Linked DNA regions of Homo sapiens. The protein of the gene in region 2 interacts with the protein of the main gene of each other region in a biochemical or structural test. Each region holds a gene or a part of one and is shown on either strand. Other genes may lie near its edges.

Evidence for each region.
Region 1: the proteins of TNFAIP6 (region 2) and ACAN form a complex in vitro, tested with the Homo sapiens proteins (one study listed by BioGRID).
Region 3: the proteins of TNFAIP6 (region 2) and BMP6 form a complex in vitro, tested with the Homo sapiens proteins (one study listed by IntAct).

Annotation. Positions count from the first base shown.
Region 1 is NC_000015.10:88,869,301-88,873,048, reverse strand, and holds part of ACAN (aggrecan core protein isoform 3 precursor), read right to left. Parts: intron 1,668-3,748; coding exon 1,509-1,667; intron 1,047-1,508; coding exon 964-1,046; intron 169-963; coding exon 24-168; intron 1-23. UniProt on the Homo sapiens protein: This proteoglycan is a major component of extracellular matrix of cartilagenous tissues. A major function of this protein is to resist compression in cartilage. It binds avidly to hyaluronic acid via an N-terminal globular region.
Region 2 is NC_000002.12:151,355,235-151,358,982, reverse strand, and holds the start of TNFAIP6 (tumor necrosis factor-inducible gene 6 protein precursor), read right to left. Parts: upstream 1,392-3,748; 5' UTR 1,317-1,391; coding exon 1,223-1,316; intron 1-1,222. UniProt on the Homo sapiens protein: Major regulator of extracellular matrix organization during tissue remodeling. Catalyzes the transfer of a heavy chain (HC) from inter-alpha-inhibitor (I-alpha-I) complex to hyaluronan.
Region 3 is NC_000006.12:7,724,381-7,728,128, reverse strand, and holds the start of BMP6 (bone morphogenetic protein 6 preproprotein), read right to left. Parts: upstream 2,031-3,748; 5' UTR 1,174-2,030; coding exon 510-1,173; intron 1-509. UniProt on the Homo sapiens protein: Growth factor of the TGF-beta superfamily that plays essential roles in many developmental processes including cartilage and bone formation.

The DNA.
Region 1 (3,748 bases), on a different chromosome or scaffold from region 2:
ACCCCTCCCAGGCGCCAGCTTACCTGTGCCCTTTTTACACGTGAAGGGGAGGTGGTAATTGCAGGGAACATCATTCCACTCGCCCTTCTCGTGCCAGATCATCACCACACAGTCCTCTCCAGCGGCAAAAAAGTTGTCAGGCTGGTTGGGGCGCCAGTTCTCAAATTGCTGTGGGTGGGAGTGGGGAAGGAGTAAGGAGAGGGCAGGACAGTGCGGGTTGGCCTGCTCCGACTGTCTTCCCCGTGGAGCCTCTTCATCATCTCCTTTCTCTTTTAGCACCAACTTCAGGCTCATCTGATAGCAGCACAAAAACTGCTGGGAATCTGATCAGGGCTGTTCTAGGGGCCATGGAACCCGGTGGCCCTCTAGGGAATCAGTCACACAGCTTGGCTCAGGTCCTTCTCAGGAGCTCAGAACCCCCAAGACTCACAGGCTCTGTACATGAGCTGATTCCACACCTCTTATCCAGAAGGGCCAACCAGGGCTGACCACATTGGGTAGGGATGGATGGTAGGAACACAGCTCTTAAGTCCAGCTTCTGCCCACCAAGAAGTCCTCCCAAGACTTATCCTTCCAGCCTTGCTTCAGGACAAAGAGAATCACTGGGTGCCCGTACCATTCACTTGGCATCTATGTTGCTTTCTGTCTGTCTCCTTGAGTAGACTCGAGTTCAGTGTGGGCAAGAAACCTCTCTAAAGCTTCCGTATACTCCTCATGGTGGTGGCTGTTATTCCTTCATTTCCTTCCTGGCTCCTTGCCTCTTGCCATCATTAGCTCAATCTGTCCAGCCCCGGGCTGGGTTCCAGAGGCAGAGATGAAGGAGATAATCCCTGCCCTCAAGGGTTCCCGGTCCAGCAGCTGGTAAGCGGCTGTCTGCATGGGGTTTGAATGCATCTCTCTCCAGGGGTCTCTATCCCACTCCCTGTCCCCTGGGCCACCAGCTGTGCCTACAGCAGAACTCACCATGGGGTGTCCATCTGACCAGCGGAAGTCCCCTTCGATGGTCCTGTCGTTCAGGCCGATCCACTGGTAGTCTTGGGCATTGTCTGGGGAAAGGGTGAGGGTGTCAGGCATCACACTGGACACCCTGAGGGTGTCTGAGAAACTTGAGCTCACGGAGGCAGAGGGGATGGAGGAGGAAAGGAGGTGGGTGGGCTCCTAGGAGCAAGGCACGTGCTTCTCAGGTCCTCACAAGAGGCTCAGCACGTGCATGCCTGGAGTGCACTTCGGGCCACCTCTCCAAGCTGGCATGGACGGGTGACAGCCATAGCTTAGTCTTGGGCTGACTCTGGCTGGCAATGGGTCTGCCCTGGCTGCAGCCACAGCTTCTGGCCCCAAAGACCGTTGTCTTCTCTCTGGGAGCTCAGACTGTGGGAACACTGTTCCCCCTCCCCCAGGTCCCTGTCCTGCAGTCTCACGAGGCCCAAATCTGCTGCCTTCTGAAAGGTGAGGCCCTTTGCCTACACCGCCACTCTCCTCTCAGGCTCCAGAGGCCCCGCCGCACTCACTGTTGACAAACTCCTGCTCCTCGGGGGTGACGATGCTGCTCAGGTGTGACTGCTGCTCCCGACACCGGCGCTCAGCATCCACCCAGGTCTCGCGGTCCGGGAAGTGGCGGTAACAGTGGCCCTGGTACTTGTTCCAGCCCTCCTCACATACCTCCTGGTCTGCAACACAGGTCAGGGGCTTGAAGGGAGGGGCAGAGGCCACCAGGGGATGGCAGATGCTGCCAGTCTTATGGCATAGGTTCCTGCGTTCACCCCACCTTCCATGCTGTGCCCTCAAGGGAAGGGAGAGGCACAGCTGGAGGAGTTCAGGTTGGAAACTGGTCTGGTCCCTGGGAGCCTCTGCACATGCTTCCACTCGGGAAAATGCCAGGGGCCCTTTCCTTCCCTGATGCCACGCCCTCCCCCCTCACCCTCTCCCAAGCTTTCCTCCTCTTGATGCCTGCTCTGCTGGGCCGGCAGAGGTCAGCAGTCCAGTTCAAAAGAGGTGGGAAGGTGAGAGGTCTTGAGATTTAAGGCAAAACATGGTTCTGTGGCTCTGGGGGGCTCCAGGGAGAGAGGGAGTGGAGCTGTGGGGAAGTGTGTGGAGGCAGTGGAAGCTGGTAGCGCTGGGGCATGGAGCGGAGCTGGCAGTTTCCTTCCTGCAGAACCTCAGGTGGGAACAGAGGAGCAGAAATAAGTCTGCTTGGGGTCTGGAGAAGACTCAGAGCTCTAAGGCTGTTGATCAGAGTTGGCTTTAGTTAAGCACACTGTGCCTGCCTCTTGCAGGGGTCAGATAGCCCATTGGGGGTCTGGGATCCAGGGGCCCTGGCTTTTTATTTTGGGGGTGAATGGGAAGAGGGGAGGAGCTTCTCTCCTCACAAACCTAAATTCGTAATGGGTTCTCAGTCTGGAGAAGGGGCTGGCTTGGAGTTCTTGGACAGCCTAGGGGACAGGCGGAGCCATGCTGAGCTGGCTCACTCAGCTTTGAGAGAGCTCATTGTTAGTGTCTCCTCTCAACCTCGCCTTCAGTGACATCATGTTGATAGCTTTAAACTGGCCCCGGTGGAAGCATTTACACCTCAGGAATTGGCAGATGCTACAATCAGGGCTCCTTTCTCCTCTATGAGAGCTGGTTGTTAAACATCTGCCAGCACAGTGTGGGACAGAGTGAATTCCAAGGCCCCCCTTCTTCCTTCTTCCCCTGGGATCTCCCAGGTGGAGGGTCACAAACCCCTCAGGCTGCATGGTGGTCTCCCTGATTGGGTGCCACCATACTCTGGCTGTCCTGGAATGGAAGGACCAGTACCCGAGGGGAAGGAGTCTTAGGCTGAAGGGGTGGATGCTTGGCAAAGTGGGGGAGAGACAGTTGGGGACAGTGGAGGGAGAGCAGAACAGGGGGTCAGCAGCTTGAGAAGAAAGAACAGAGCTGTAGGAGGGGCCGTGGAGGCCTCTGGTGCCTCAGCTATGAATGCCTTCCCCAAGGGGTGAGGCTGCAGTCTGGAAAGAGGTGGAGAGGCCTCAGACTAGCTCAGCACTCTGAAGAGGCCAGAGATATCATCTTAGGGCTGACTTAGGGGGTCAGTTTTTGGCCCCTTCAGTGGCTAAGGGCTGAGCTGGGCAGGCAGAGCTGGAGGGTGCAACTTCTCTGGGAGGTGGGTATGGGAGGGCAGGGCTGTGCAGGCTGAAGATTCTTAGGAAACAGAAACAATTCCAGACTGAAAGAGGTAACAGGGACAGAGCCAAGGCAGGAGGCACCGTGGAGTGGTGAGGACTCAGGATTGGAATGGGAGAGGAGATGCAGCCCTGCTTAGCTGGGCCCCCAGGCCCAGGGCCGAGCTGGGTGGCTCTGTCACCATCTCTCTGCCCCATCAGGGTACAGAGCCCTGTGAGGGTCCTGCCTCCATTCCAGCAGAGCCCACTTTTCCAGTCTGGAACCAAATAGCTGTTGTCGGCATGGAAGTCCCAGACTCTTCTACCCTGTGGCAAATGTTGTGGTATCATGGGGAGAAAATCCTTGTAGTCTCTGCTTCCACCCCAGCCAAGACCCCATATACCAATTTCTTGGGGTCTTGGGGTGAGGATGGAGGGTGGGAGGCTGCAAGGGAGTAGGAGTGTCCAGGCCTTTTTTTTCCCAAAAGTCTTAAGTTCCTCTACCAGTCTGTAACCTTGGCAGTGCCTCAAAGGAATATGAAACCCAAAACTACCTCCTCACACTGCTTAGGACCAAAGGGAGACTTCCCAGGAGTTTCACCTGCCTTCTG
Region 2 (3,748 bases):
CAAAGTTTATCTGCCTGGATTTAATTCTTACTAGCTTTATGACATTTAAAAAAAATCCTGACAAATATGAGTGTATTTCCTATATTTGACTGTATTCAACTAAAATAAAGAGATGGGCTCATTCCTCTACTAAATTTCAGATCCCGTCTTGGCCAAATGGATCACAGTGAAATTAGTTCACTGGCTCAAGCTGAAAAAAATAGGCGGCAAGGCTGTGCATTACAAATTAGGCTTTTTAATGAAATCCGCATGGTTGCAGTTATTACCAGAGAGAAACATGCTGAAAGGGAAAATATTCTACAACTGTGCTGTTTAGAAAGCATAAAATCAAAATCTAGGTTAATTTCGCCTTCTCTTTATTTCTTTATTCTATGCAAGAATCTATGCATTTTTCCCCAAGAAATTCAATTTTTTTTTACTATTAAACACAATAATGAACATAGAGCAATATCAATTTGTATCATGAGAATTAAAGCATTGTTTAGCATACTGTAATCTAAGGGGTGTTTTGGATTTTCTGCATTTTCCTTTTTTGATCTATTGTTTATCTTCACTGTTTGGCCTGTCTCATTCCTTACATTTAACAAAACAAAATAACAAAAGAAACTTTCCTTGTCTAACAAAAGGGTCAGAAAAGTATTTATATGGATAGTAGAAACAGAAAGAATCAAAGTGGTAAGAATGCATTCAGAAGGAGAAACATTTTTCACTTTTTTCTGTACTGCAAGCTGGCTTGGTCAAAATAGTCAAAATGTTTGAAAAAACTAAGATATAGACTATAGCTCAGAGTCCATGAAGCAATTATTATAAAATTTTCGTAGACTCCAATTTACCTGTTAGGATTCTGAAATCTGATTGCAAATGCATTGACATAAAAACAGAAGACTATATTGGAGTTTCTAGTTGGTTAAAGAAATACTCCTCACTGTACTACTACATCTGCTTTGAAAAGTTTAAAAATATATTTTCATACTGAATATAAATATTAACTGCTATTTTCTACTGAACAATTCACTTTATAAAATGCTATTTTTAAATTTTAGAGGACAAGAACGCTTAAAAAAAAAAAAGCGTATGTATTCCAAAGGCTATCTTTCCTAAGCATTTTCTTTGAGAACATCAGCCTTGTACAGAATAGAAAAAGTTACTGCTTTAAATTTCCTTCTCCATGATTTAAAGAATTGACATTCTCAACAAGAGGCTCATGAGTGAAGGTTCTTACCAAGCCATATGGAGTTATGAAAAATTCCATCCTTGAATCCCCATCCTTGAGTGTCTTCCCATAGCAAGAGAAATAAGTAAATTAAGATGATCATATCGTCAGTTGTAGTGAAGTAACAGCCTGTTAGGGGCTGCTCACAAATTCTCAGAGCAGTGGCTGAAATGTGACTGAAACATCTGGTTTCCACATCTTTTAAATAGTTTTTTTCAACTGTGAGGTCAGCAAGTACTCTCCAATGGCATTTTCCGCTGTAGAGTTACACAATTATCTCAGTGTCTGAAGCAAATCCTCTGACTCATTTGCATTGGCAACCAAAACTAAGGAGATAGAATGATCATCTATGTTTTAAAATTAACTTACTAAGAACGGAGTTCATTTATTGTTAGTCACAAACACTTTTCTGTTAGAAAGTTTGTGTAACTTGATGCAGATTTAGCAGTGATTAAAAGAAAATCGAACTTCAGTAGGAATTTCAAGATAAATCCTAAATGTCTTATTTGCAGTGTCAATTATGGGATATGGGGTTAAACACTAATCTTTTATTGGTAATGTTGGACTGGCTTTTCTAAACATTGTCAAGCCTGTGTAAAAAATTTAAAACAAAAAGTATGCACAGCTTGGAGAATCCTAATTTTTCTCCAGTGATATATGACTTCCTTATTCTCTGCCTGCTTTTCTTCCAGGGTGGGGTCTGTTGCAGTCTTTGGTGTGTTATGGTCAGCAGCTAAATAAATGTATCAGCTCCCAGAAAAGTATTTCAATTTCAGAGCGTCAGGATGTTCCAGCAGCTTTGGGATGTCCTATTATAACACAGTTTTCCCAGGCCACAAATTCTTGAAGTGTTGGGAGAAAGGTGGGTAGACTAACAAAGTTAATAAAAACTTGTCCCTAGCTTCCCTAGACCACTCTAACTTTGAAGAAGACGATCAAGGTAATAGATAATAATTATTACAGTAAAGTCATCATGTCTTCAAATATCCCAAACTTTCCTCTTCCTTTGTGTAGAATCCTTGGGTAACATATCTGATAATACTCCCACTACCGCTGATGCTAATGGCATTTCCTATTGTTCATTGATAGCCATTTATTGGCAACTTTTGATTTTTTTACAAAATTGGTCATTTTTTGCTACTTAGATTCTCTACTTTTGGTCTCAAATTGCTTCCCATTCACTCCTATTATAGCATTCATTTCTCCCATGCTTTCTTAGTCCCTCCAATGATGTTGGAGTTCTTTGAAAAAGCCAACTTGCTAGACATGCTCTGGTTTGAAGTTAGCTTTGAATCCCTTAGACATCTTTGCTTTGAACATCTCAGGTGTGTTCTGGTCTCATCTCTTCTCAAAAGAGCAGTTATGGGGATGTAGGCTGAGAGTACAGAATTTATTGGATGCTCACTGAGGTATACATAAAGTTACTAGCATTGAAAATCTTTATTTTGGACTGGTGGCACATGAAAGATGAGGGAATTGTATCCAAGTTCACAGATAGGGTTAGTGAATTTAAGTTTGTTGCAAAAGAGAAAGGTATAGTTTAGACCAGGTGGGTGTGACTATGGAGAAGACAGGCATGGTTACTGAGAGCAAGATTCATAGGTAGTTGGAAGGAATAAACCATGATATTTCTTTGGAAAGTATAATTATATGCGTATTTTAAGTTTGTGGTTTAGGAAGTAAATATAACTTTAGTTGTGCAGTGCTACAGCAAAACCTTCCCATAGTCTTTCCAATTCTTTTCTTGTCACATCCTCCAGCTGTGCCCTTTCTGCATCTCTCTCAAGCACCTAATTTCCCCCTAGTTCTCATTTATCAAAAATTACTCTCAGGAAAGGGTTTGCAATTAATCTTTAGTTAGGCCAGATAACTAAGAACAGATACCCTTCTGTGTTCATTTGCATTTTAATGAAGCTCCAAGTAGAGCGAAGTGTGAATGTTCAACTTCTTTTAACACGAAAATTTAATGAGTTGCTTTGATGAATTAACCCGATCTGGGGTGGAGGATTTCTTTCTCCCCTCTCCCAACTCTCATGCAGAATATAAATATTTCCCCTTACCTCTGCATAGTGTCTGAAAATCTCATCCTCCATATCATCAAGGAAATAGAGAATAATGCCTAATGATGTAAGTTCTGATTTTGAGGGGCATTCAATAAAGGAAAGAGGAAATGGGGTTTTCATATGGAAAAGATGCAGAGGGTAATCCTGAGGACGAGAGAGAAGAAAAGAGAGAGTAGCAAAGGAAATGTTGCCTATGAACTTACCTTGGAAGTTGTCTAAGAAGCACCCTCTGCCCAGCCTCCAGCACACACCACCCAGGATAAGCCTCATGAGGAGCTGAGAGAAGATACACTGATAAAAGTTCCTTTCAGGCCGGATGCAGTGGCTCATGCCTGTAATTCCAACACTTTGGGAGGTCGAGGCAGGAGGATCACGAGGTCAGGAGTTTGAGACCAGCCAGACCAATATGGTGAAACCCCGTCTCTACTAAAAATACAAAAATTAACTGGGTGTGGTGGCTTGCTTCTGTAAT
Region 3 (3,748 bases), on a different chromosome or scaffold from region 2:
TTTTCAAAGTTCCCAGCCGCTGTCGGATTCCCTAAAAGTCTCGGTGGGAAAACTGCACTCCAAGTTAGGGGGCAAAAGGCGGCAGTTTAGAGGGGAAAATCGTACTGAAGAGCCCTCTTCCCAGGATGGCCACACTCGGGCTGGACTCTCCTGCTGCAGTTGAGTTAACCTGGCCAGAGCTGGGCAGAAGTGAAAAAAAGCGCGGAACGTGCTCAGGGAGTCCGCAAATACACGCCCGCTGGGGACAGCGCTCCCGGAGCCCCGCGGCCCGGCCGGCCAGCCGCCTCTGGGGGCCTCGGCGCGCAGCCCTGCCCGCGGCGCGGGGGAGCGCATGTGCCGCCCACCGCCGCGCAGGTGGCGGGAGCACAGCCTGCCTGTCCCCGCGTTCTCTGGCGCACCAGGCGGGACCCGCGCGCCGGGAGCTCCTCCACCCCCTCACTCCATCCCCTGGGCCCGGGACACTGAAAAGGGGGAAATGTTCTCGTCATTACGTTACCCCAAATCCTTACCCAGGTTCACAAAGCTCATGACCATGTCCGCGTCGTTGAGGAAGGCGCTGTCCTGCGCGCTGGTCAGTGGGGACGCGCCGCCGCTGCCAGATCCGGGGGCCAGAAGGCTCTTGCGGTTGAGCGGGTGCGCGGCGCCCGGGGGCGGCTGCCGACGCTGGGACGAGCTGGCTGCTTCGTGGGGCCAGGACTGCTGCCTCTCCCCCTCCGACGCCCCGTCCTCGTCGTTGTCGGCGGACAGGGCGTTGTACAGATCCAGCATGAAGAGGGGCGCGGACTTCAGTCGCCCGGGAGGGGGCTCTCCGCGAGGCAGCTGCTGCTGCTGCTGCTGCTCCTCCTGCTGCCGGAGCGCCGGGGGCTGCGGCTGTTGGAGGCCGTGCAGGGGCCGGGGCCGGTGCGGGAGCCCCAGCACCGACAAGATCTCCTTCTGCATCTCCCGCTTCTCCTGCGTCTTGAGCCGCCGGTACAGGAAGCCCGAGGAGGACTGCGGCGACGGCGGCGGCTGCTCCGTGCGGCCGGGGCTCCCGCCGTCCCCCAGCAGCTGCCCCCCGGCGGCGGCGGCCGCGGCAGCGGGCAAGGGCGGCCGCAGCGGCGGGGGCCCGCAGCAGCTGCACAGCAGCCCCCACCACCAGCACAGCCACTGCGCCCTCCGCCCCAGCCCCGGCATCCCCGCCCGGCCGGGCTGCCCCCGCGGATCCCGCGAGGCGTGGAGCGGCGGAGCGAGGCCGGAGCGCGGCCGCTGTGGCCCTTGGCGTGAGCAGTCCCCGCCACCTCTCGGCGGGCTCGCTTCCCCTTCCTGGCCCTCAGTCCTTATCTCTCATGGTCGTCCGGGGCGCCCCCAGTTGCCCAGGCTAGAGAGGTGGCGAAGGGGCGATCACCAGGAGAACCGCTTGGAGGGGAGGAAGGGGAGCCTCACAGCCTCGCGCAGGTCTCTAGAGGCGCGCGGTCCAGGCCAGGTGCGTCTGAGTCCGGGCTGCACTGCAGCCTGCGCCCTGGCTCCTGCGAGTCGCGGCGCGGTCACTCTGGGCCTCGCTGGCCGCACACGTGCGCTGCCCCGCGCTCTCCCTGGCGACTGAGTGGGACCCGGGGCAGCGGGGAGCGGGGCCGCTCACGAGCTGCGGGAGATGCCCGGCATCACCGTGGCGCACGCCCCTCCCCAGATCGCAGGGCCACCATGAAGTTTACCCCGTTGCAGGGCCCAGGCTGCGGCGACAAGGCGTCCCGAAATGCCAGTCTATTCCGCGAGGTTTAACTTCCTTCTCGCTCACGAACTCCGCGCCCCTGAGCTCTCGGGCACCGTCGCTCCCACTCAAAATCTCCGCGCGCCGCACGCCTCCTCAAGCGGAGGCGGCGAGGATCTTGCTTTCCGTTCGGCGGTCGCCCGGCTGCCCAGCAAACCCGCTCGCAGAAAGGATGGGAAGGAAGGGGGCTAGTGCACCGAGCAGCGGCCGCGGCGGCGGCGCCGGAATTCGGTCTCCCGCCTCTCCACGCCGCGCTCCCCGCAGCGGCCAACGTGGGCTTTCTGCTGCGCGCCCGGCTCAGGTACCTCACTCCAGCCCCGGGACTCCCCGCCCCGCGGTAACCGACAGGCTGGCAGCCAATGGGGACGCGAAGCTCGCGGGCTATTTAAATAGCCCCGCCCCTTCTTTCACCCTCCCTCTCCCGAGAGGCGTCGCCTCCGCCGCGCGTAGGTTTCAAGACCCGGGAATTCTTGGAGGCATGCGAAGAGCCGCGAGGTGCCAAAGGCGAAGAGGTCATCGCTAGTAAGAATGATCTGACCAATACCCCGATCTGAAGCTTTCTCTTTTACCATCATTTAAAAGGCCTAAGTTGATGCTTTAACTAAATAAAAATAATAACAGCGATTAAATCACTATACTGCCAGAACTGAGGAAGAAAAGAAAAATGATAGCTTTTCCATCCCTTCCTTAGTTTCTCTTATTGATGTAATGTAGGCGTTTAGCGGACACGTGGCTTTCCACGGCAGCTGCTGGAAGTTGGGACACACCCTCCGGGGAGGCTACTCACAAACTGACCACAGAGAGGGCCACATGTAACCCAAGCCAGCGTCCTGAGGGTTTGGGGTCGGATGTGTTGACTTCTCTGTTCATTTGTGCTTTGGTTTGGCTTCTTAAGCTAGCACCCAAAAGAAAGAGGGTGTAATCAGACGATATATTAGAAAAGGCGTCCCCTGTCTTCTTGGAAATGTCTTGATTCTCCAGCTTATCTATTAATGTTGCATTTTAATATTGAAATACAATGTGACTTATATGGTGCAAGATAAAACTTGAGGAGAGGTGATAAAGATAACTCCAGGAAGAGCAGGGGCTTGGCATGCATTCTGAATGGTCAGGACAATAGACAGGGTCCTGAAACACAGGTTCCTGTGGATTTTAGACAAGATAACACCACCACCAACACCATTTGCCAATGAGGACACAAATTCATTTGCCTTTACCCCGCCCGAGAACATCCAGTCATCTATGGATCGTAGAAGCAAATTCACGTAAAACATGAAGGTTTTTTACTTGGTGAAAATTGTGTGGAGTTGAAAATAAAAACTGCAATTTTCTGACTTGCCAGCCTTAGTCCAAATGGTCCTAGGCATTTGAGAGTGAAGTCAAATAGATTATAGACTGTGGGATTCATGAATTTATGAGATCATAGGCTTTCTGTTGGTCCAAATCTTATAAGCATTCCTATCCTATTTCCAAGAATCTATTTCTCATGGGTAAATAGAGACCACCACTGACTCCAACTACCCACTGAGTCCTTCTTTCTAGTTCTGCCTTGGCCCAGACACAAGTGGTCATTTAGAAGAGTCTTTATTTCTACAAATATCTGATAGCTATGAATTTCAGGGCACAAAACTTATGTGAATGCCAGTCTTTAACCATCTCTACAGGGATTTCTTCCATCCGAAAAGATAATACGATACTTTGTCTGGGATGCCCGGACCCTCAGAATTCAAGAGCCCTGTCACTTCTTTTTTCTGTAGGGAACATGTTAGGGACATAAATTCACTGCAGTGCCCCACAGCAGCCAAGAGCTCTGCTCAGAAGATCTGAAATTCCAGCAAATACACCTAGGCTTCCTGCCAAGAGCCTCCTTTTTTAAACCTAGTTGCACCTTCCTCATAAGACTTCTGGTGAGATGCAGGCAGAGTAAAAGACTTTCTACCTACGAGGGCAGTGGGGAAGACACAGGAAACTCAACATTTCAAGCATGGATGAGGGCACCTT